Linked DNA regions of Homo sapiens. The protein of the gene in region 6 interacts with the protein of the main gene of each other region in a biochemical or structural test. Each region holds a gene or a part of one and is shown on either strand. Other genes may lie near its edges.

Region 1 (3,500 bases), on a different chromosome or scaffold from region 6:
CCTGGCCAACAAAGCGAGGCTCCGTCTCAAAAAAAAAATTATCTATATTTGAGGTATACAGCGTGATGTTGTAATATACATGTATATACTGAAATCATTACTACAGCCAAGCGCTTAACATATCCCTCACCTCACATGATTACCTAAGTGTGTGTGTGTGCGCGTGTATATGTGCAAGTGCGTGCCTGTGGGTGTGTGTGTGGTAAGAGCACCTAAAATCTCCCTCAGCAGGTTTCCCAAATATAATGCAATATCATTAACTGTAGTCCTCATGCTGTACATGAGATCTCTAGACTTATCCTACATGACTGCAACTTTGTACCTTTGACCTGCATCTCCCTAGTTCCCCGTCTCCCTGCCCCTGGTAACCACCTTTCTACTTTCTGCTTCTATAAGTTTTTTAGATTTTTTTAAAGACCTGTTAAAAGTTCCACATGTAAATAAGATCCATGTGGTATTTTTCTTTGTGTGTGATGTTGAGTGCATTTTCATATACCTCTTGGCCATTTTTTGGTCTTCTTTGGAAAAATGTCAATTTGGGTCCTTTGTCCATTTTTTAATTGAGCTTTTTTTATTTGCTATTGAATTGTGCGAGTTCATTATATGTTTTGAATATTAACAGGTTATCAGATACATGGCTCGCAAATATTTTCTCCCAGCCTATTGCGGGATCTGGCCAGCAGCCCGCAATGCAACGGGGTTCTCTTTGTGTTCCCAGGCGGATCGGCCCGTTGAGAAATAATAGACACACACAAGATAGCGAAAGCTGGGTCCGGGGGGGTCACTGCCTTCTGGTCCTGCAGTGCCAACAATGCACTGGATATACCAGCATTTATTATTAAGTTTAGTGAGGGCGGGGGTAGGTTAGTGAGGGATTTAGGGTCATTTGATTATGAGGTGAGATGGTCACATGGGGATGAAGTAATTCTTTAACATAACATCTGTATGCAGAAGTACAGTATACAGAGATAAGAATTTACAATATAGTGTATGCATCAGTAATTTCTGACAGAGCCTTAAAACAGAAACACAGTCTTTCCATAACCTATGATTAGCAAGATATTAATCAGCAGTAACAGTTGCAGCAAAAGCTGGTTACAAACAATCCGTAGAAACAGGACGTGAAGCTAGACAACCTGTTAGACCAGAAATTCTCAGAAGGGAGTATGCCTTAACCCTAAAGAGGCCCAGAAGAGCCCTGGCAAGATGAGGGCGTTTATAGCCCTATCTTATCCATATGGACGGTGCCCCCATGTGTCTGTTTATAGGCTCTTTACAAGGGTCACTTTCCATTCCCAGAGCTATGAATATCTGCTTTTCTGGGATAGGAATCTTGGTGATGTGAAACCTCCCTGACTGCACATCCATTCATAGGCTCTCTGCAGGGGGAAGCACATCACATGCTGTTGGCTCATTCTGGCAGTCCCACCTGGCACTGTCTTTACACAATCCTGCATGCAATTTTGTATTTACAATAATCAGGAGCATTTCATCTTTTATTCCATAGCAATAGTTTCAGGGGGTCTCCCTACACCAGCCCATAGGCTACCTTTTCATTTTGATTGTTTCCTTTGCTGTTCAGAAGCTTTTTAGTTCCATGTAGTCCCGCCTGTTATTTTTGACTTTGTTCCCTGTGCTTTTGGTGTAATACTCAAAAAAACATTTGCCAAGGCCAGCGCCAAGGAGCTTTTCCCCTGTGTTTCCTTCTAGGAGTTGTGTGGTTTCAGGTCTTCCATTTAGGTCTGTAATCTATTTTAAGTTGATTTTTGTGTGTGGTGTAAGACAAGGTCCAGTTTTATTCTTTTGCATGTAGATACCTGGTTTTCCCAGCACGACTTACTAAAGAGACTGCCCTTTCTCCACTGTGTCATCTCGGTGCCCGTGTCAAAAATTTAAAAGTAATCTGATAGCCCTCTTTAAGTTGCTTCTGATTTGTCTTTTGCACTAAAAGAATCTGTAATTCAAGGCTTAAAATTGACTACACAGCCTTTACTCTTAACATCCATATTATACTCCTATACTATACCCTTTTCTCCATCAAAAAAAAATTGATTTGCCCAGTAGGTAGTTACTGTCAGAAAATTAAGTAATTTCATTTTTATTTTGGTCTTTTTTTTTTTTTTAACTGATGATCTTCCATTTTCACCTCTAGCAACTGGTGATGATGATGACTGGGATGAAGACTGGGATGGGCCCAAATCCTCTTCCTACTTTAAGGATTCAGAGTCAGCTGATGCAGGCGGCGCTCAGCGAGGAAACAGTCGTGCTAGTTCCTCATCCATGAAAATTCCCCTTAACAAGTAAGTTTAAAGGGGAGCCAGGGAACCAGGGCCGTGGTAGAAGTATACATTAATACAAAGTATATACCCTACCAAGAGGCAGCTGGCCTTTTCCCTTTCCAGTGATCTCCTAAGTTTTGGATATGATTCAGTTATTTTTATTTGGATCTTAACTGAGAAGCTTACTTAAAAAAAAAAAAGGATTTTTGATTTACAAGGTTAATAAGTGAAATATTTATTTTATTTAATGATTTCCCAAACTGTTTTCATTACTTCTAGCTTTATCAATTTATGACATATTAAGGTTTCATTGCTAATGTCACAGGAAAGCTAAAAAGAATAATAATAACAACTCTCTTTTAAATGTTTTACTGTTTTGTTAATCACTTGCCATGTGCCAGGCATTGTGCAGAGAGGTTTGTATCATTCGCATGTAGCCCTCATATCCCTTTGTGGTACATAAAACCCCTGTTTTACTGCAGGCAAACTGATGCCCAGAGAGACGCATCGAGTGTTCCAGTCAGGAAGCCAGGCCCTCAGGCGCCAAAGCACGTGTTTCAGCTCCTGTGCCTAAAAACGTGGTCCGGAGCTTTGTGTTAGCTTAGGTTTCTCTTAGATTTAAAACAAAAAAAAAAGTGTTGTGTTTTATTTTTTTGTTTTGAGACAGGCGTCTCGCTCTGTCACCCAGGCTGAAGTGCAGTGGTGCGATCTTGGTTCACTGCAACCCCAACGTCCCGGGTTCAAGCAATTCTCGTGCCTCAGCCACCTGAGTAGCTGGGATTACAAACATGTGCCACCGCGCCCAGCTAATTTTTGTATTTTTAGTAGAGACGAGGTTTTACCACGTTGGCCAGGCTGGTCTCAAGCTCCTGGTCTCAAGTGATCCGCCCGCCTCTACCTCCCAAAGTGCTGGGATTACAGGCTTGAGCCACCACACCTAGCCAAAAAAAAAAAGTTTTTAACAGTACTTGTAGATACCCTACTTAACAGGAAAGCATGTGGGCACCAGTGACCACTGTAGGATTCTTTGGAGAGACCTAAATAAGGCTGTAGTCTATGCCAGTGTAGCTTGAAGGAGATATATTAGTAATTTATGACTTCCATCAGAATTTTCAAGTACTCCTTCCAGCAGTTATGTTTAGTTTATTTTTTGAAATTACTAATACTTTTTCCCAATATTCCAATTCCATGATTCAAGGCAGATATCAAAGAATGTTAATC
Region 2 (3,500 bases), on a different chromosome or scaffold from region 6:
AGCCCCTGGCAACGACCATTCTACTTTGTGTCTCTATGACTTTGACTACTCTGGGAACCTTATATAAGAGGAATTATTCAATATTTGTCCTTTTGTGATTGGCTTACTTCATTTAGCAAAATGTCATCAAGGTTCATCTATGTGATAGCATGTGTCAAAACGTCTTTCCTTTTAAAGGCTGAATCGTGTTCCACTGTATACCATCGTATATTCCGTGGTGCGCCACATTTTGTTTATTCATTCATCTGTCAATGGACACTTGGGTTGCTTCCACCTTTGGGGGCCATTTTTATTTTCACTGAGGCCTAAAGATTTTTCTTGTCACTTTGCATGAGCTCATAATGAATTAAGGGTATTAACTCATTGTCACCAATGCATCCCCAGGGAGCAGTGAACGTTTTCATCCTCTCCATTAAGGTAAGAAGGTATCTTCATGATGTGAAGCTCCCAAGTTGAGTGTCCAGGGACTCTGCTGCTGCTGTTTCTGTTTTCCAGTTCCAGAAAGTAGGGATCATTCAGGTTTCCCCAGCCTAGACCCCTGACAATATATTGGTGATGAATAATACACAGCTTACACTTTTTTTTTTTTTTTTTTGAGATGGAGTCTTGCTCTGACACCCACGCTGGAGTGCAGTGGCTCAATCACTGCAACCTCCGCCTCTCAGGTTTAAGCAATTCTCCTGCCTCAGCCTGCCAAGTAGCTGGGTTTACAGGCGCCTACCACCATGCCCAGCTGATTTTTGTATTTTTAGTTTCGCCCTGTTGGCCAGGCTGGTCTCAAACTCCCAACCTCAAGTGATCCACTCACCTTGGCCTCCCAAAGTGTTGGGACTACACGTGTGAGCCACGGCACCTGGCCAACACAGCTTACACTTAATGAGCACCATATGCCAAGCCCCAAGTTGCCTACTTTTGCATTAGGTCATGTAATGCTTACAACCAGCTTGGAAGGTTGGAAGTAGGTGATACTATTCCTATTTTATCAGGAAGAAAACAGAGGCTTAGAGAGGTCATGCAGCTTGACCAGGGCCCACAGCTAGTAGGTGGCAGAGCAGGGCTTTGGACCTGGTTGTGTGTGTCTCCTAATGACACTCCGGGAAGCCCACCTGGTTTACAGTCCATGGCCAGTGGGAACGTTGGGAGCCCGAGGCGCTGGTTGGAAGTGGACCCTCCAGGCTGAGCCCAGACAGCTCTCCCAGACATCAGAGTGAGCTGTAGCCTATGACATCATTCCCTCTGTGGTCTCTGCGCCTCCCCGCCACTGCCCTGCCCCCAGCTGGGACTTGGGGAATGTATACGTTTGTCCTCCCGTTGGGCAGGAAGTGTGGCCACAGCTCCTGCACTCTGCTTACAGCCAGGCTGAGGTAACCATGCAGCTGTTTTTAAAAGCCCTTGGGCGCCATCGGGTTGCTATTTTGGGGACCACCTGCCGTCTGCTCCCACCCTGCCATCCAGCTCTTGTGGGCTCTGCTGGGCTTGAGGGGGGTTGAAATAATTTGGTGGTCAGTCCTTCAGCAGACTCTTGAACCAAGTCACTGGTTACAGCAAGGCTCTGGCCTAGGGACACCCCTCTGGGGATCTCTTAGGTGGCTGGTGATTCCTCAGAGCATTTTCCCACACTTACCAGCTTTTCTATTAAAGAGGTTCAGACTGTGCTTTTCTGTGCAGAAATGTTTATGTCTTTTTTTTTTGAGACAGGGTCTTGCTCTGTCACTCAAGCTGGAGTGCGGTGGCCCATTTATGGCTCACTGCAGCCTTGACCCCCTGGGCTCAAGCCATCTTCCTACCTCAGCCTCCTGAGTAGCTGAAACTACAGGCGTGCATCACCATGCTCGGCTAATTTTCTTTCTTTCTTTCTTTCTTTTTTTTTTAGTGATGGGGTCTCGCCATGTTGCCCAGGCTGGTCTCGAACTTCTGGGCTCAAGCGATCTGCCCACCTCGGCCTCCCAAAGCGCTGGGATTACAGGCGTCAGCCACTGCGCCCGACCTGCGTATGTCTTAATAAACTAGAATTCCCCTCCTCTCTGCCTCTGCTCCTGGGCTTTCTCTCTCGTTCGTTCGTACAGGGCCTAAAACTTGAAACACAGGAGGTGCTAAAGACATACTTGTTCACGTCTCCCCTTCTCTCCCCACTTTGTGAAATCTCTGGCACATTTTTTACATAGAACACTTTCTAGTGTATGCTAGGGCAGAAACACAGAATACGCTTTACATTTTGACTTGCTCTGTGTGTGTGTGTGTGTGTCTCTGTGAGTGTCATGGGAGCAAATATTCAATGCCTTGCCCCCTGAAATGACTCTCTCAGACAGCAATGTGATTGATTTGGGTTGACATGTTGTAAACAAAATGGAGCTTGCAGAATAGCTGTGCCTGAGTGTGCACACACACTCACATTCACACGCACATTCACACACACACACACACACACAATACCTTGGCTGTAATGCAGGAAGTGTGATTCTGATGAGTTTCCTTCCAGCTGAGGAGGCAGTTGCTGTGAAGTAGGACATTTCAAAGCCAAGAGAGAATTGAGGCAGTGAGAGGAAAGGAATGTCAAGGAGTACTTGCAGTAAGTGTAGGCAGCGGGGTGGAAGCATGGAAAGACCCCGATGCCCAGGCGGGGGGCAGCGTGCCCTCAGCCTCACACTGGGGCTGGCGCCTGGAGAGTCAGGGAGAGAGCCTCGAACAGCCTTAGGCAGTGTCTGCCTCTGCTGCCTGGCCTGGCTGCACAGGGCCATCCCTGCACCTCCCCAGCGGAGTCCCCTTCCATCAGCGGAGCACCAGATCCCCAGGGCTGCCCTTGCCCTGTTTGCTCTGAGGATGGGCCTCACCTGTCCTCAGGCCCTTTCTGCTTCTCCTTAAGTGGCTTAGCCTGGAGGAGCCTCCTTTCTCCTTCCCAGCAGCAGCACTGCCGGAGCCCCACCCACGTGGGCTGAGATTCTCTGTCACCAAGGACCCCAGGGAGACAGAGGTCAGAAGACCGAGAAACATGTAGGTGAAATAAAGCGAAAAACAAAACCAACCAAGAAAACCCCAAACCGTGCCTGGCTTTTCAGCAGCGACTTGATTGGACGTCCCTGTCTGTTCTTGCTCTTGGCCTTCAGGGTACGGCTGCTCAGAGCCGAGTGGATATCTTAGCTCTAAATTCCTGAGAAGTGGGACCTGCTTCCCCCTTTCCAGTCCTTGCCTGACTTTGGTTCTTTCTCTTCCTGGCAGGGATTAGGACTTCGTCTGCTGTGTTGTAGACATTCAGGGAGTGTTGATTGAGGGGCAGACTAGGAAGTGAGTGTGTTGGTGGAGCTGCTGTGAGGGGTAAAGTGGTAAGATGGCGTGTGAGCCAGAGGAGCTGCACTTGTCTGGGGAGAGTCGAGGCAAGAGGAGGGATCTTCCCTAATCCATCTGGGGGTGGGACTCAGGGAAAGGGACACACTGGGCGTTGCAGGGAGGGTGGTATTGAGATGTGGCACTCGTAGTGCCATGTTGCAATTCGCTAGGGCACC
Region 3 (3,500 bases), on a different chromosome or scaffold from region 6:
AACTGAGAGAGGGCCAGTATGGCTGGAGTACTGTGAGCAAGGGAACAAGCGCTTGAAAAGAGGTCAGAGAGATTGCGGGGGCCAGCTCATATTGAACGTGGTGGACCATGGTAAGGAACAGTGGATTTTATTTTAAATGCGTGCAGAAGGCACTAGAAGATTTTGAGCAGGAGTTGTGTGTATGCAACATTTTTAGTGTAGTGCCAGGCACATAGTAAGCACTCAATAATGTGAGAATCCATTCTGGATCTGGCTTCTCAATTGGTCTTGGAAGGACTCTGGGGGTCTAGGGCTTCCTATTGACATCAGTTTACCCTCCTAGCTGTCCGCCCAGTCAGCCCAGTACTCCCAGCAGCTGCAAGCAGCCCGCAATGAGTACCTGCTTAACTTGGTGGCTACCAATGCCCACCTCGACCATTACTACCAGGAGGAACTGCCAGCTCTGCTCAAGGCCAGTTTTAACCCAGACACCCCTATCCCTCAGCAGGGAGGGAAAGGAGGACCTCCCCCTGCTTCTTGATCCCCATGACAGTGGGTGGTGCAGGGGATCTTGTCTGTTTAGAGTGAGTAGATGATACATACATGCACTCTGGTTCTGCTCCTAGCTGGCTGCATGGCATTGTACAGTACACTTAAACTCTTCCGAACCCCAGATTCCTCATCAGGGATAACCCTTTCTCTGCCTATCTTATAGCACTAGTGGGGCTCAAAGGAGAGAATGGATGTGAACGTGTTTTAAACTTCTAAGTGCTCTGCACACGAGGGCCTTTCTCATGAAGAATGTCTTCTTCTCTCCTTCCTATACCTCATGCCCATCACCTGTCAAATCTGGAACGAGCCTATTTTACAGTAGAGGTCTGGGGGAAGGGTGGTGTCAGTATCTTGGGGTTCTCTCTAGGCCCTGGTCAGTGAGCTGTCAGAGCACTTGAGGGACCCCCTGACCTCCCTGAGCCACACTGAGCTGGAAGCCGCAGAGGTCATCCTGGAGCATGCCCACCGCGGGGAGCAGACAACCTCCCAGGTGAGGGCTGTGGCCTCTAAGAGCTTCCCCGGGGATCCTTTTTACCCTTCCCTCCCAATGCAGCCCTCTTTGCTTCACACATTGTCCTTTTTCTTCCAAGAAGTGCTAGGGACAGGGTTGGAGAGTGAGTCAGTGAATGAGTGACTTTGACTTTTCCCAACCCCTAGGTAAGCTGGGAGCAAGACCTGAAGCTGTTTCTTCAGGAGCCTGGTGTATTTTCCCCCACCCCACCTCAGCAGTTTCAGCCAGCAGGGACTGATCAGGTGAGATCTTCCTGCTTGTTGGAACCAGGCCACATATAAAGGCGATTATGATTTAGGCCTCCTCCATTATCTTTGTTTTGTGTTAACTTAGTGAGTGTACACCGTGGAGAGGGGGTTTCAGAACTCCAGCTCACCTCCCTCCCAACAGGACACACACAAAAAAACACACCTCAGTCCACCTTTCAGTCACTTGACTGCGCCATCCTTTTCATTCTACCTCTGTCCCTTGACCTGGATCCCATTTCTGAAGCTCTGTATCTCTGTGTCCACATTACCTGTGTCCATGACTGTAGGCATGTGCCCCTTTCTCTTTGTCCTTGTCCTTGGAGGTCAAGATAGAGTGGAAAAAGGAGGGAACTGGAGAGAAGGAGCAGCCTCAGGTCCTCCTCACAGCACCCCCTGACCCATTCAGGTGTGTGTCCTGGAGTGGGGAGCAGAAGGCGTGGCTGGCAAGAGTGGCCTGGAGAAAGAGGTTCAGCGCTTGACCAGCCGAGCTGCCCGTGACTACAAGATCCAGAACCATGGGCATCGGGTGAGGTGGGGGGGCACAGGTGTCATGTGCACCTTCTTGTCTCAGCAAGAAGAGCTGAGAGAGGGGATCTTGGAGCCATTGAGGGTGTCATGGAGCTACAGAGGGGAGGGAAAGGTATTTTAAGGTAACAGTGTGGCACAATAGTTAAGAGCACAGTTTTTGGAGCTAGACCGACATAGGTTCAAATTCTCTTCTGTTGCTTCCTAGTTCTGTAGCCCCAGGTAAGGGAGTGACTTAACCTCTCTGGACTTCAATTTCCTCATCACTAAAGTAGGGCCAATAATAGCACCCACCTCATAGGGAAGATTAAATGACATAATGTATGTGATGCAACTAGCAAAGTACCAGTCCCATAGTAAGTCATGCCCCACAGTATTTCCACCCACCCCTGTTCTCTGCCTTCCCAACCAGGTACTGCAACGACTGGAGCAGAGGCGGCAGCAGGCTTCAGAGCGGGAGGCTCCAAGCATAGAACAGAGGTTACAGGAAGTGCGAGAGAGCATCCGCCGGGCACAGGTGAGGCACACCCCTGAGGTTAGAGATCCCACCTTCTCAGGCAAGCCCCACTCCCTCTACTCCTCTTTCTGATGGTGGGAGGAAGGAAGGGAGAAGCAGAGAGTAAACACTGCCGTCAGCCAGGTTCCACTAACTTACTTCCTCCCCATGGCAGGTGAGCCAGGTGAAGGGGGCTGCCCGGCTGGCCCTGCTGCAGGGGGCTGGCTTAGATGTGGAGCGCTGGCTGAAGCCAGCCATGACCCAGGCCCAGGATGAGGTGGAGCAGGAGCGGCGGCTCAGTGAGGCTCGGCTGTCCCAGAGGGACCTCTCTCCAACCGTGAGCTCCTCCCCCAACACTACCCATCCTTACTTAGAAGGGAAAAACTCCAGTGGAAGGCAAACCCTATAAAACTGGAATCACAGTTGTGCCTAACTCAAAGGGTTATTACGAGGCTTAAGTGAAATCATCATATATCATTCTTTGCATAATTTCTGGCATAGAGTCCTCAGTACATTTTTATTATGAGCATAATAGAATGATTAAGAAGTAGGGTTCTGGGGCAGTCTGTAAGGGCTTTGAGTACCAGCCACTCCACTTATGAGCTGTGCAATCTCGAAAAGTGACTTAACCTTTCTGAACCCCAGTTTCCTTGTAAATAAAGTGAGGTTAATAGTTGTGCAAAACTATTAACACTGGGTCATTATGAAGATTAAATGAGACAATATACACAAGATACTTTGCATTGTACCTGGCACATAGTATGCACTCAATTACTGTAACTCTATTACTGTTAGTATTATCCTGCTCTGTGGTGACTGTGGTTGTGTACATGGTGAGTGGATGGGTGCACCTGCCTTGGAGGATCCATGGTGTCCTTTAGAGGAAAGATGGAAGAGTGGGAGATAGAACCAGTGCTTGAGAGTGGGCCCCATATGAGGTCTGTTCTTTGCCCCTCTAGGCTGAGGATGCTGAGCTTTCTGACTTTGAGGAATGTGAGGAGACGGGAGAGCTCTTTGAGGAGCCTGCCCCCCAAGCCCTGGCCACGAGGGCCCTCCCCTGCCCTGCACACGTGGTATTTCGCTATCAGGTATGAATGGGGGTGGGGACCTCTGATGGGCAAGGGTGGGGGACAGCCAAGTCCTGAATCCTTCGTGTGTGGCCCAGGCAGGGCGTGAGGATGAGCTGACA
Region 4 (3,325 bases), on a different chromosome or scaffold from region 6:
GGTGTCAGGAGCCAGGGCCGGCCGCACTCACGGTCCGTCTGCAGGGCAGCGGTCAGCATCTCGCGGCACTTGTTGCGCACGGCATCACAGGTGACAGGCACCGGAGGAAATGTGGTGATCCTCGGAGTCGACGGTGCCCTGGGCAGCTCCGGCCTCTTGCGGCTGCAGAGAGCCAGGGCCAGCTGGGTTCAGACTCAAGGCTGCAGGCACCCCAGCGAGACACTGGTCCTAGAAGCAGCAGGTGCCACAGCATAATCCCCCACCAACCCCTGCTTGTTCTACTCTGCCAGAGTCCAACAGTGGCCTGTGGCCCTGCCTATCTTGAGTCCAGCCCAGATGTCCATGGGGTGTGCCCAGCAGCCAGGAGGGAGAGGGCCATGAGGTCCCCAGTGGGTCAGGGTGTACTCTCCAGGTGGGAACAGGATCCCAGACCCAGCAGTCAGCATCTGGGCAGCATTACCAGTCGATCAGAATGAACCTGGCAGTTCCTGCCACCTCTGGGGTGCCCACCCACTGGGCCGCAACACAAATACTCTGCTGAGGGCAGCTGCAGCTGCTGCCTGGTCAGGGAGAGGGAGAGACCCACAGCTGTCTGGGGGGAGACAAGGCGGGGCCGCCCAAGGCCAGGTTCTGCTGTCACAGACGACACCCCTGGGCACGTACAGAATGGGAGAAGGATGCCCCTCAGGGCTGGACCCCAACATGGGGCTGCCCAACGACCAGGCTGCATCCACCTAGCCCTCCCCTCATCCCCTCTGTGGAAGTTGGCAGAAGCAGGCAGCTTCCTGGAGGAAAATCAACTTGCAAAGGTGTCCCTGAGCTCCTGGTGGCCCAGTCACCACAACCCAGTGTGGTCAAGGGCAAAGCCATCTCTCGGCTATAGCCTGCCACAATAAGCACCCCCAGCTCCCAGCTGCAGGCCACAGAGCCCTTATCACCCCCTGGCAGCAGTGACCACACGTGCACATGCAGGGCAGGAGGGGAGTTGGCCCCCGCCTTTGGTTCTGGGCAGAATTTTGCAGGAAGGAGGGACCGTCGTTGAGTGAGGCTGAGGGGGAAGCCAGAGTGGGCCAGCAAGAACCAGACCCAGCAGGGGGCCTTGGGGGAAGAGGCCAGGGGGCTCCCACAGGCCCACTCAGGGTATACAGCAGCTCTTGGCAGAGGAAGAGGCCAGGATGGCTGGCTGACAGCCAGGTGGACACAGACCCACATCTCAAGTGGTCAGTGCAGGCGGGACACACCACAAGGCTGGTGTCCAGCATGAGGCTGACCGACTCTGTGTGCAGCCTCAAAGCAGTGCCTAGGCACATGGAGACTGGCACCCTTTCTCTGGCAAGGAAACAGGCTGGGAAGCAGAAGTGTGTGCACCTGCCTTCCAGGTGTGCTACCTGGGATCCGGGGCCTCTGAGGCATCCCTCGAGGACGTGGGCAGAGGCATGCCCCTCCCCCGCTCCCTGGCTTTGGCATCGGAAGCATCTGCAGGAAAGATCGGGGATGGGCTGATCAAGGGGAGGCAGAGGAGGGAGGGGCACAGACCACCACCAAGGTACAGCCTCAGCCCGACCACCAACACGGCCCCAGCCCCAGCCCCCGCCCCCAGCCCCTCACCCAGCCAGGGGAGCCAGGGGCCAGGAGGCTGCCCAGCCTCTGTGAACAGGTCCTCACCCTCCCCAGCAACCTGTCCATCTCTGCAGTCCTGAGGCTGCCTCCCCAGAACCCTTTCCCGTACAAGCACCCACTCACAAAGGCCACCTCTGGGGCCTCTCTGGGGCCCACCCTCCTGCCTGTCCTGGCCAGAGAGACCAAGCATGTCCCCAAGAAGGCTCTTCCTGAAAGCCCAGAGCCAGGCCCAAGGGCTGGGGACCAGGACATGCTTGTGCCATGCACAGCCTGAGGGCCACACAGGGCTGGAGAGAGACTGTTTCACAAGGGTGTGGACAGAGCTAGGAGGGTTGCCTCCATCCCAGACAGCAGCATCTTTGCAACCCCAGTCACCCCACTGTCTCCAGGAAGAGGCAGCCTTCAGTCCAGCCCAGCCCAGCCCAGCCCTTCCCTTCCCTGGCAGGGGGCTGCCCCTCTGTTCCCTCTGAGTAGCTGAGGTGGCCCTGCCTTCTCCCTCCCGCTTCCCCTCTCCCGGCACTTCCCAGCCTCCTGGCCATGACCTTCCCCTCTGTGTGACCTCCCAACTCACCCCAGTCTCTCAGTGCTGTCAGTTCAAGTCCTGGCCTCAACTCTCTTCTCTCCTTGTTCTACCTGGAACCCTGCCCCCAGCACACACCCTGGCCTCCTAGGCCACACCTCCCAGCCAATGCTGACAGGCACCCACTGATCCACTGCCAGCCCCAAGCTGGGCGCTTCATGGTCTGGGTTTGCCACTGCCCCACTCCCAAGCGACCTGGCTCAGGGTGGACACTGCCAGCACTCTACACTGTGCTGACCAGCAAGAGGCAGCACTTCTGGGACCCCTGCCCCAGCACTCAGTGGGCACCGCCTGAGCCGCACCCAGGAGCTTCTTCCAGGACTTGATGAGAGACTTGGCCAGTGCAATGACCTCCTCATCCGAGCTCTGCTTCCGAAGGGCGTTGACAGACATCCCGACTCGGGTGGACTACGAGGCAAGTGGTCTGGGTTGGGGGAGGCAGGGGCCCACCCTAGGGGTCAGATTCTCCTGGCAGAGCCTTGGTGGCCCCCACAGGACAGGAGCCCGGGACCTCCCAGGGAGGTAGAGGCCTCTCCCAATGGCGACTGTCCCATTTGGAACCCAGGAGCCTCAGCCACGGAGGACAAGATGGGTTATCCTCAGACTCCCCTCCCTGTCCCACTGAGCCCAGAGAAAGGCAGAGACCCTCTCCTCAGGAACAGGCATTTGTGCCAACTAAGGCCTGGTGGGGAGGGTGGGGAAGCCCTGCCAGGTGCCCTCAGAACTGCCATCCCCTGGGCTGCACCCAGGAGCTGTCCTGGACCTGGGGCAGGCAGGGACCTACCTGGAGCAGGTGCAGCGTGATAGGCATGGCCTTCAGCTCCCGCAGCAAATCCATGGCTCCCTCCTGGAAGGAGAAGGAGGACCTTCATAAAGGACTTTAGATCTCAACAGACAATATCACCTCCTTCTGCCTACTGGAGGAGAACACAAGGCAGTGACAATTTGGAGATTCAACCTGGGGTCAAAAAGAAACCAAAATTCCTCTACCTGGAGACACCCAGGGCTCTGCCCACATGTTCCTGCACCACAGCAGGGAACCCTTACTGCTCAGTCAAGAAGGGGAGGGGTTCTGCAGCCTCAAGCATTCCAAGTTGTAACCCACATCCGTGGCAATGACCTCAC
Region 5 (3,877 bases), on a different chromosome or scaffold from region 6:
GTGAGTGGTGCAAAGTCAGGGGGGATGTTAAGAACAGAAGAACTATGGGAGCTGATGGAAAGTTCCACCTGGTTTTCCTGTCCAGGCAGAGCAAAGGATGTTACCTATTCCCAAAACGCTTTGTCCCAAGGAGTCCTTCCTCAAAACTTCTATCTTGGACTTTTGGAAAATACCCCTGGAGACAGTGTAATGTTGTTTAGTTTTGTACTGCAGAAAATATTGGACTTGTTCAGAAAACCTCACTTGAAATGTTTCTTCTACTGCTTAAGATTAAGATAGTGTATTGGTAATACTTTTATTTTTCTTATGGTATGGAAATCCTTCCTAGAATAATGACCAGGAGAAGGGATGATTTACCTATCCAAAAATGATGTTCATAGGTCTACTAGGTTCCAGGCACTGTGGGGAAGTGGCAACATTTAATGTTTTTTTTACTATGTGGAATTGTGGGGTTTGAAACAACATAGTTTGATTAGCAATGTAGGAAAAAATCAAACATGTAATATTAATAATAAGTTTTATTAAAACAGAAGGAGATTCTAAGTAGCTGGGTTCTTGCCACATCAAAAGATAAAACTAGGTTTCCTCTGATCACTTTGAACTGCTTATGAGTGAGCATCATAGCCAGAAACTAAGTCCAAATCAAAAGCATCTACAATAGCTGCATCGGCCTCCACTCTGACAATGCCTCCGCCACTACACTTAGGCTGGGGAGAAACATGTGTCTGGGTAAAAAGGGAGATAAGGGAAACATCTGTTCTCACAATATGGGCTTGTTATCATAGCTCCTTTAAGTACCGCAGTGCTGGCTCCAAGAGCATATTTTCTCCCGAACGGAATCTGCGCAAGGCCTGGTCGATTTTCTGAGGGCTCAGGGACAGGTTGTAAATGAGATTGTAGTTGTGAATGAGGCGTCTGGCTCGTTCCTTCTCCAGAACTCCTGTGATTGGATTGGGTAGGAGGAAGGTTTTTTAAAGAGGATGGAGGGAAAACAGAGAAAACTATATATTAGCTTGAATGACTTCCAGGTAAAGACTAAATGCTAATACTTTGCAATTTTAAGCTTCTTAAAAATCAAGTGGCATATTAAAAAATATTTATAGCTGTGGGTATGCATCACAGATTTCAGGAAGAATCTGAGGGTGATTTCAGGGGAAAGAGAACAAGATGGGATCCAATAAGATCCATAGATAAATTCTAAAGCAATTTAGGCTTTTCTTTGTAACTTTAAAACTTGTAAGGCCAATTTTTGAAACACTGGGGGTGCCTAGCAAAAGTAACTTCTAATTGTCCTGAGTTCTTTTTATCTTGTTAAAGTCTCCAAACACATTCCTAAACATGCAGGGATTAAACAGCTTATTTTCAAAATGCATTTCTCTAAATGTATTTATAGATGTTCTTTGGTATCTGCAGGGATTAGGTCCATAATATTCCCCTCCCCAACAGTGATACCTACACCCATGGATGCTCAAGCCCCGATATAAAATGGAGTAGTATTTGCATGTAACCTATACACATTCTCCCATGTACTTTAAACCATCTCTAGATTACTTGTAACACCTAATACAATGCAATTGCAATGCAAATAGTTGTTATACTGTGTTTTAAAATTTGTACTTTTTTTTGTTGTCGTGTCATTATATTTTATTTCTATTTTTTAAAATATTTTTGATATGCAGTTGGTTGAATCTGTAGTTGCGGAATACAAAGATGCAGAGGACTGACTGTCCTGTGACTCCCTCCAGCTTGCTGTGCAATCACAGGTGAAGCATCTAACTTCTCATAGCTCAGAGTTTGAATCTGCGTAATAGAGGTGGTAATGTGTATGACTGCAGGATATGCTCTGGTACCCACACATTATATATGCCAATACCAATGTCAGTATGCTTTCCATGTTAAGATTGGATAGATTTTGATGGCTGTTGGGAGGAGTCGCAGTGTAGACCACGGCATCACTGAAGATCAATAACTCACTCATAAGCCCCTAATTGCAAATATCTATGTGTCAGATACTGTGCTTGGGAATACAGAAGATTTAGAGAATTTTTCTGCTACCTCTGGAAGTTCTCTGTCCCGTGGGGGAGAGAAGTTATTCAGAAAATTAACTGGGATACAACAATAATAATTAAACAATATTTAAATATAAAATTTACTATGTTCCAGGAACTGCTCCAAGCATTTCACCAATATTAACTAATTGAATCCTTACAATAACCCATTTCACAGAGGGCAAAACTAAAGCCTAGAGACTGCAAGTCTCTTGATTGCCTAAGGTTAACCACTACAGTACGTTATGGAATGAGGGAAAAGAGATTGCTTCAAGTAGGGGTCTATTTATTTATTTATTTATTTATTTATTTATTTATTTATTTTTTATTTTGAGACAGGGTCTTACTCTGTTGCCTAGGCTGGAGTACAGAGGCACGATCATGGCTCACTGTAGCCTTGATCTCCTGGGCTCAAGGGATCCTCCCACCTAAGCCACATGAGTAGCTGGGATTGCAGGTATGTGCCACCACTCTCAGCTAATATTTTTATTTTTTGTAGTGATGAAGTTTCACTATGTGCCCAGACTGGTCTGGAACTCCTGAGCTCAAGCAACCCTCCCCCTAATGCCTTTCAAAGTGCTGGGATTATAGGCATGTGCCACTGTGCCTGGCCTCTTTTACTCTCCTTCATATGTGCGAACTGTAAGAGTGATGGTGAAATTCCTTCCTAAAGAATCCAGAGGCAGTGCCTTGTCATTTTGCGGAAAGCCACTACTAGTCCATTAGAGTTGGGCAATGGTAGATACTTATCATCTCAGTTTAAGATACCAAATATTACTCATTTTTAAATGTGCAAGTACTATTGTGCATGGTGCCACCTTCTCAACTACTCTCTAATCGCTATTTTTAACAGTAGGCCACAATAGGTGGGGTCCTAATTTATTCTGTTCTATTCCAGTGTGTTCATTTTCTATTCTGTTCTGGTTTGTTCATTGCCTATTTATTGTCTGTCTCTCTTATTAGAACAGTGGTCCTTTCATTTATGTAAACCTCATTCTTTGAGTTGGCCAATTGCATCTTCGAAGTTTTCTGGATAGGATGGCTGCTCTCAGTCCTGTCTAGCTTTGCTTCCTCTGGCCATTTCTCCACACCCTGCCTCTGGAAATATAAGACATGGATTTGGAATAAGTTTATGACTGTAAGAAAAAAAATGAGTGAGGTGTGGTGGCATGCACCAGCTAAGGTGGGAGGATCATTTGAGCCTGGGAGGTCGAGGCTGCAGTGAGTTGTGATCATGCCATTGCATTCTAGCCCAGGCAACGGAGTGAGGCCCCTGTCTTAAATAAATAAATAAATACATAAATACATAAATACATAAATAAATGTCAAAAGAGGAAAGAAAGAGGGAAAGAAGGAAAAGAAAACAGAGGTAATTAAATTGTGTGAAAATCAATAAAATATTAAGTTCACACAGTATCCAGTACTAGTAATCACTCAATAATGTGAAATTTTACTATAGGATAATTATAATAATTATGTCATCAACATTATTTTAAAAATATATAAACAGTATATATGTAATTGCTTATTAAAATAGATAGCATTTAGTTTATATTTTAATTAAAAATTAAAAGTTATGTTAAAAAATACATCTAGGAATCACAGTAGTATTTTCTATCTTCTAAGCTTTACCATTGATAGAAGATGCCTAGAGTCAAACAAAAAGTCCACTGAATGAAATTTGTATCTGTCTAATTTACTCTGTCATTAGGGGATGCCCAGAACAGCTGCATAAAATAGCCCTTACAATCCATCTTAGTGTTGGAAAGCCTGTCTTTTCTAACCAGAACCAAAATAAAAAAATAATAAGAATCCTTTTTTTTTTTTTT
Region 6 (3,500 bases):
CAATACCACTAAATCTACTGGCTTTCAACATTGGCTGTGCATTTAGAAACCACTAGGTAGCTGAAAATAATATGATACCTGGGCCCTACCTCAGACCAATTAAATCAGACCAGTTAAGCCTGGGATGGGGATCAGATTTTTTTTTTCAGGTTCTCAAGTGATTCTAAAGTATATTTGAGGTTAAGATATACTGCGGAGTGCAGTGTATTATAAGTTCCCATGAATGAGGATTTTTATTTCTGTCTTTACATATTTATTTACTAGTATGTGGTTAACATTTGGATCAACTCATTCTCATTCTGTAATACCCACATTTTAAAAAATGAATGTAAAAATGTCTTTTATTATTTTTATTTTTCAAATTTAATTTTAGATTCCAGGAATACATGTGCAGGTTTGTTACAAAAGTATAGTGCGTGATGCTGAGGTTTGGAATACAACTGAACTCACAACCCAGAAAGTGGGCATAGTGCTTGATAGGTAGTTTTTCATCTTTGCTCCCCTTCCTGTAATTTCCACTTTTAACCCAATTATACAAGCCTGAAAACCTTTAAAAAGAAAGGGCCTCCAGTTTATTTTTTTATTTCATAGCACATTTTATGGGATTATGGATATCAGTTAACTCTTTAAAGTTCCATATAAGATTTGGAGCATAGATGCTTTACTAGAGAGCATCCATAAAGATCAAGCTCTCAAAGATGCTCATCTCCCAAAAGAGATTGGGACCTAGATGCATAAACACTTAAATATAAATATTTGCTCTCTTCTGAACAAGTATCTCCTGTGGCCTTGGTCTCTACCCCACAAAACAGACATCACATCACTAATCAGGGGTTGCCTCATCATCAGTACCCTCATCATCATCAGTACACACCGACTGAGAGGCATGTTGGGTAATGAAAGATGACTGCCTTTGAAGCCGGAAGACTCCATAGGACTTTTGGAGTTCTAGGTCTGCAACATGTTTTTAGTCCTAGGTCGGCAAGCATGATGTTAGTCATAGGACCTTGAGCAAATTATTTAGCATTTGTACATGTTTCTTTCTACTATTAAAAACATTGAGATTTATCATATTTTATGTTTTTTTATTAAGGATCAAGCAAGATAACACACAAAAGTATTTTATAAAATACGGAAATTCCATGCAAAACTTTGTCCTAATTGGAACTATTTTCTATTAAATACAGCAAATATCCAAGAAGGAATTACCTAAAGCGTAGTGGCTCTCTGACAACACATCATATTTTTACCTCCTTTTCCAGAATAGAAAGAAAAGGGGGAGGAAAAAAAATCTTCCTACTCTAGGATATACTAATGATTGTTAAATCTTTATGGTATTTTCATGTTATCTATCTGATTTAAATGCAATTTTGACTATTTTTACATATTCCTCGTTGTTCATTCATACTGTAGTGCCTTCTTCTATTCCCCCACTTAACAGACTGCTTGATTATATCAGAGGTGCTTATCTGTGCAACTGTTTACTGGACGAGGGGTATGTAGAAAATACATTGTCCTCATCCTTATGAAATTACACTCATAATCTAGTGTGAGGGATGCACTAATAAAGACAATTTTATATTTAATAAGGTCTATAATATGACAGTGACACCAGTGGGGAAAAGGGACTGGTTGGTCTATTTTGATAGGTCAGGGAAGAAATCCAGAGGAGCCGACATTTAAGTTCATCCTCAAAGGCCAAGTAGGAGTTTGCCATGCTGATGTGGCCCAAGGTAGCCAATCTGTTTGTGAAATATGTACAATGCCAGATGTCTTAGGTTGAAAGGGAAATATTTTAAGGTGTTCGTAATTTTTCTTTATGTTTAAAAGGGGAAAATGGCAAATATTTTACTTTCTGTTTATGTTTGGATGATGTGGATTTTTGTTTTCTATAATTTGACTGGCTTAACTGCAAAGATATCCCTTGCTTTAAAATTTGAAGACACTGCAACTAAATTTTATTTCAGCATTTTATATTTTATAACTCTAGGTATAAAAGGCTAACACTTAATTTTCTGAGCATTCATGAAACAAAGTTTTGCAAGAACATTCAAAAGTTACAGATATAATATTTCCTTCAGAAATTTAGATATAGTACAAAATTCTACAAAGAGCCACATAGAATTGAAACTAAAAGTAAGACCAAAGTAAACATTGGACATAATCTTTATTTTATTATCACAAGAAATTAATATAAAGTAACCAAAAGTAAGTAAAGTACCAAAGCATGTTATATATTCAATTCAGAATGGTTAGGGAAGAATATGAAATAATTGCAATAGTCTAGCTTGTTTAGTTTTCAAAATAGTGTTTTTACATTAAGAACTAATATAAGGTTGTATTACACGTAGAAATTTTAAGAAGAAAACAAATAGTGATGACTTTCTATTTTTTTTTCTCTGTAGGTTTTCTTATGCAGCTTTCAGTGATTCCAACATCATAACAGTGGTGGTAGACACTGCTCTCTATATTGCTAAGCAAAATAGCCCTGTTGTGGAAGTGTGGGATAAGAAAACTGAAAAACTCTGTGGACTAATAGACTGCGTGCACTTTTTAAGGTAAATTCTGTGGTTTTTAATTTTATTCCCAAAAGAATTATCTTTGCACTTCATGTGTCACAGAGGAAGGATTTTTCTTCCTTTCTGCCTCTGAATAGAGAATTTTTTTAAAATGCAGAAAAAAATTTGTAATGCTTCTCAGCACCATCTTTTCAGATCAAGAAAATTTTGTCTTCAGAACATAAAAGAATAGGCACATAATGTGCATAGTTTTCTCATGGTATTACAAAGAATGTTCTCGAATGAAAATACTACATTATTGAAAATGAGCATATTGGAGTCTCTGCTAGCTTTGACATAGTTCTGTCACAGTGTCAAATATACTATTTATAATTAAATTATGGGCCCCAGGATTATCTGCTCTAAAGAAAAAGAGTCACAAAATAATAGACAAATATGGGGGGAAATGCAATGGACTGACCGAGGCGCTAAGGAGTGGGGATCAAGACCCCAGAATGAGAGCATAGTGCTTAGTCTGATGCAGCCTGTGAGTGACAAATCCATAGCAAGCACATTCTTTCTGTGCTGGTGCTGAGAAACAGGACCATTTTCAAGCTTATTTGCTAGCCACTTTATATTTTTATTTTGTTTTGATTTTACCATATAGATCTATGATACTCTTGAGAACATTTTAGATTACACACTATATCTGTAAAAGGATACTTCAAAGTTTCCTGTCTTAGATTCATCTGACAGTTTTTCTATGGATTGTGAGAAGGGCTCACAGTTTATGTTCAGAAGGGCCAACAGGTCTCCTTGATAAAGGGTTCCTTACTTCCTGAAGTACCAAAACGATTAGGATTCTTTTATTTCTGGACACTTCATTTTTGTCATGAATTAGACTATTCACTGGTTCTGGGAAAAAATTCAGTGGTTTGTATCGATATCTTTTACATGTGAATGACTATAATTTTATGTTCCTTTGTAACATTGAGACTTCAT
Region 7 (3,500 bases), on a different chromosome or scaffold from region 6:
CCAGCTAATTTTTGTGTTTTTAGTAGAAATGGGTTTCACCATGTTGGCCAGGCTGGTCTTAAACTCCTGACCTCAAGTCATCCGCCCTCTATGGCCTCCCAAAGTGCTGGGATTACAGGCATGAGCCACCAGGCCTGGCCGACATTTCCAGTCTTGATTAATTTTAATTCATTAAAAATGTGTCGCATGTGGCCAATGGCTACCATCTTGGACAGTGTCCGTCTAGAGAATACAAAATCCATTCTTGCAGTTGTGCTGAGCTGGAGGGCCAAGCCCATCACGAACCAGACGTGGGAGTGACTATCTCGATAAGAAAGTGCCCAGTGCCCAATGCCCTGTGGTGGAAAGAGCTGGTCCCAGGTGCTCAAGGCCATGGGCCCCATTTGGAGCCAGAAGGTCTAGGGTGAAGTCAGAGAAGACGTCCCCTGCCCATATCCCATTTCCAGCCTTGCTGAAAAGGGCAACAGAGGCCTCTCCCTGAGGTCCCTAGCCTGCGAGACCCCCATTCTCTGCCTGACCTCTGTGTTACTCCTTAGTGAACAAGAAACCCAGAGAGAAGAGAAGCCCAAGACCAATGTGCCGACCTTGGCTTCCAGGAGAACAGAGCCTTGGTCCTAACCATCTAGCAGGGTGGCTGAGGGCCCTGCCATGAAAGAGGCACACCAGGATGAAGCAAGAGGAGGTGTTTAATGAGTTCTGGTTCAACACAGAGGCCGCCAACGGGGTCTAGCTATGAGTCTGTCCTGGGACCCGTTCCCACCAGGCCCCTTGTGGGCAGTGGCCACCATCCCTCCCTCAGGCTGTCCTGGCCCTCAAGGACCCCATGGCAGGGCCTTTTCCACCATGGCCTCCACTGTGCTGCCATCTCTTGGGAACAGGGGGTCATCCCATCCTCCCAAGAAACACTTCCTCAGGCCTGGCCCCGATGGGCTCAGGCACACCTGGCGACATCAGAAATGGGGCCCTGGAGTCCAGACCACAGGCCAGTAGTTTTGGGGGGACAGCTCCTCCACCTCCTCCACCGGCCTATCTGGGGGGCTCTGGGTGCCCAGGGGAGCCGGGCACCTGAAAGGGACAAAAAGCACAGCTGAGGCTCAGCCTCTTGCGCTCACTGGTCAAGTGGCAAATTTTGGAAAAGCCAGACCTCAGAGGATCCTTACCAGTACGTGGGTGAGTACGTGGGCCCAGCACAGGGACAGGGGCGGGGACAGAAAGGTCCCTTCGCTGTCATGGGGCTGTCACGGGGCTGAGCCTGGCTCGAGGAAGCCCCCTTTTCCAGAAGAGATGTGAAACAAGACATACAATTTCACAGATTCCAGAGCTCTGGGTACGGCCGGCCAATGCTGCTCCCCACCCAACCCCACCCCTGGGACTCTTAAAAGAGGGAAACAGAACAACTGCCTAGCCAGACCCAGGGGCCCATGACCAAGAAGAAAGCAAGCACCATGACTGGGTCCAGGCTGGCCCGAGGGGCCATGGTGCAGGTAGCCACCTGGGATGTGCAGAACAGGAGCAGCAGGACGGTGTAGGCAGCAATCAGGGCAGCAGGGGGCGCCGCCAGCACCACCCATGCCCTGCTGCGGGCACCCAGGAGGGACCCCAGGTGAAGCCAGATCCTCCTTGTTCCGACGGGAGACAGCGCCCTGCCTGGGCCCTGCTGCCCATGGTGGCACAAGCTGTCAGCACGGATGAGGCTGGAGGGCTCTGGGACCCCAGTGAGGTCAACCACACTGTCCAGCTCGTACCTCCCGTCTGTCGGGAGCCCCTCCCGCCACCAGCTCACTCTGGCCCTCTGAGTCAGGGCCTTCCCCATCCAGTCCCCCAAGCCCGCCTTGGCCTCCAGGTGACTCACGAATTTCAGCATGTTCCAGTCAAAGACGTAGTCATAGGAGAAGCCCTGCCGGTGGAAGAGGTTGCGGAAGAGCTGACGTAGGTAAGAGTAGTCGGGCTTGTCGTCAAACCGCAGGGAGCGGCAGAAGTTGAGGTATGTTGAGAATTCGGCTGGAGGGTGTTGCAGAGGATAGAGAAGGCCACTGTGAGGCCCACGCTCCCAGACCCCCTGCAGCCAGCACTGTCCTAGCCACCCACTGTCCCTAGATACTTCCAATCTGTGAGAGGCAAGAAAAGGAGGCAACAGAGCCATGGCCTTCCCTATCCTACTGTGATGAAAGCCTAGCCTGCCCGTGAGCAGAGCCTCTGCTGCTTTCAGAGCAAGGGAAGACCTGCGAACAGTGGCCAGGAGCCTCTGCCAGGTAGCCGGATCCAGGAGCCATCCATGCCCACAGCTCTTCCGCTGCCCTCGCCAAGCACCCTGGGGCCCACAGATCAATCGTTGCCATAAATTCAAAGGACTGCAAGAGCCTGACGGGACCTTCTAACACAACCTAAGCAAGAAGAGGAAAACTTCCAATTCCTCCTCAAAAACACTGGGGAGAGGGCCCTTGGGAGATGAGGCAGGAATGTAGGCCGGGAAGCAACAGGTGTAACAGCCAGGACAGGGAAACCGGGCCTTCTGGCTGTGCCAAGGAGTGGCAAAGAGCCAGGGATTACTGCTCAGGTGCCAAGGGCTGTGGGGCAGCCCAGTGTGGGCTTTGTTGTTGTTGTTTTTGAGATGATGTCTCGCTCTGTCACCCAGACTGGAGTGCAATGGTGCAATCTCGGCTCACTGCAACCTCCGCTTCCCAGGTTCAAGCAATTCTCCTGCCTCAGCCTCCTGAGTAGCTGGGATTACAGGTGGGGCTAATTTTTGTATTTTTAGTAGAGACAGGGTTTCACCATGTTACTCAGGCTGGTCTCGACCTCCTGACCTCATGATCCACCTGCCTTGGCCTCCCAAAGTGCCAGGACTGCAGGCGTGAACCACCGCGCCTAGCCCCAGCGTGGGCTTTGTATGGCCTCACCTTTCCCTTAGACAGTGCCTCAGGGGCCCCCAGGCATGTCCCCTCCCACTGGGCTACTCACAGGGATAGCCTTTGCAGAGGACCTCGATGGGCGTTGACATCTTCTTCTCGCTGATCCGTTCATACTTCTGGCGCTTGGTGGCTGCTTTGAGCCCCTGCCAGGGCAGGGAGCCCAGGTTGAAGTACATGAGCACGTAGCCCAGGCTCTCCAGGTCATCTCGACGGCTTTGCTCTGCACAGAGAGTCAAAGACTAGGTGAGGGACAGGGGTCCACTCAGGCCCCTAACTCATCCTCTGGGTCATGCTCCTCACAATGCACCAGGACCCTCCTGCCCCCACGTCGGATGTTGCTCACTGCACGCATTTTAAACAGGCACTGCTATTATCCTCCTCCTACAGAGAAGAAGCCTGAGGCAGGGCCTTCTCAACTTAATTTGGGCCTAGTTTTTCCAGTTCAGGCACTTAATCATTCAATGACTATGAGAGGGCACCTACTGCCCCCTTGCCTGGCCCACCCCGTGGAGAGGTCACAAGCTTCAGCATCAGACAGGGCCGGGGTCAAGTCCAGCTTTGGCATTAGCTAAGCTGCATGACCTTAAG

The links.
Region 1: the proteins of LRRK2 (region 6) and SNX9 interact on a protein array, tested with the Homo sapiens proteins (one large-scale study listed by IntAct).
Region 2: the proteins of LRRK2 (region 6) and VASH2 form a complex in vitro, tested with the Homo sapiens proteins (one large-scale study listed by BioGRID and IntAct).
Region 3: the proteins of LRRK2 (region 6) and FCHSD1 form a complex in vitro, tested with the Homo sapiens proteins (one large-scale study listed by BioGRID and IntAct).
Region 4: the proteins of LRRK2 (region 6) and TCEA2 form a complex in vitro, tested with the Homo sapiens proteins (one large-scale study listed by BioGRID and IntAct).
Region 5: the proteins of LRRK2 (region 6) and C1orf87 form a complex in vitro, tested with the Homo sapiens proteins (one large-scale study listed by BioGRID and IntAct).
Region 7: of the proteins of LRRK2 (region 6) and CSNK1E, one has a biochemical effect on the other in vitro, tested with the Homo sapiens proteins (one study listed by IntAct).

What each region holds. Positions count from the first base shown.
Region 1 is NC_000006.12:157,899,746-157,903,245, forward strand, and holds part of SNX9 (sorting nexin-9), read left to right. Parts: intron 1-2,152; coding exon 2,153-2,300; intron 2,301-3,500. UniProt on the Homo sapiens protein: Involved in endocytosis and intracellular vesicle trafficking, both during interphase and at the end of mitosis. Required for efficient progress through mitosis and cytokinesis. Required for normal formation of the cleavage furrow at the end of mitosis.
Region 2 is NC_000001.11:212,957,041-212,960,540, forward strand, and holds part of VASH2 (tubulinyl-Tyr carboxypeptidase 2), read left to right. Parts: intron 1-3,500. UniProt on the Homo sapiens protein: Tyrosine carboxypeptidase that removes the C-terminal tyrosine residue of alpha-tubulin, thereby regulating microtubule dynamics and function.
Region 3 is NC_000005.10:141,644,919-141,648,418, reverse strand, and holds part of FCHSD1 (F-BAR and double SH3 domains protein 1), read left to right. Parts: intron 1-322; coding exon 323-451; intron 452-898; coding exon 899-1,021; intron 1,022-1,188; coding exon 1,189-1,284; intron 1,285-1,696; coding exon 1,697-1,816; coding exon of another isoform or gene 1,817-1,821; intron 1,822-2,227; coding exon 2,228-2,332; intron 2,333-2,486; coding exon 2,487-2,648; intron 2,649-3,270; coding exon 3,271-3,399; intron 3,400-3,476; coding exon 3,477-3,500.
Region 4 is NC_000020.11:64,066,198-64,069,522, reverse strand, and holds part of TCEA2 (transcription elongation factor A protein 2), read right to left. Parts: intron 3,277-3,325; exon of another isoform or gene 3,191-3,276; intron 3,118-3,190; exon of another isoform or gene 3,048-3,117; coding exon 2,985-3,047; intron 2,609-2,984; coding exon 2,503-2,608; intron 1,477-2,502; coding exon 1,389-1,476; intron 163-1,388; coding exon 32-162; intron 1-31. UniProt on the Homo sapiens protein: Necessary for efficient RNA polymerase II transcription elongation past template-encoded arresting sites.
Region 5 is NC_000001.11:59,989,894-59,993,770, forward strand, and holds the end of C1orf87 (uncharacterized protein C1orf87), read right to left. Parts: intron 941-3,877; coding exon 780-940; 3' UTR 501-779; downstream 1-500.
Region 6 is NC_000012.12:40,360,997-40,364,496, forward strand, and holds part of LRRK2 (leucine-rich repeat serine/threonine-protein kinase 2), read left to right. Parts: exon of another isoform or gene 1-2,188; intron 2,189-2,405; coding exon 2,406-2,558; intron 2,559-3,500. UniProt on the Homo sapiens protein: Serine/threonine-protein kinase which phosphorylates a broad range of proteins involved in multiple processes such as neuronal plasticity, innate immunity, autophagy, and vesicle trafficking.
Region 7 is NC_000022.11:38,296,934-38,300,433, forward strand, and holds part of CSNK1E (casein kinase I), read right to left. Parts: intron 3,133-3,500; coding exon 2,962-3,132; intron 2,002-2,961; coding exon 1,853-2,001; intron 1-1,852. Other genes in the region: TPTEP2-CSNK1E (casein kinase I), read right to left, coding at 1,853-2,001, 2,962-3,132.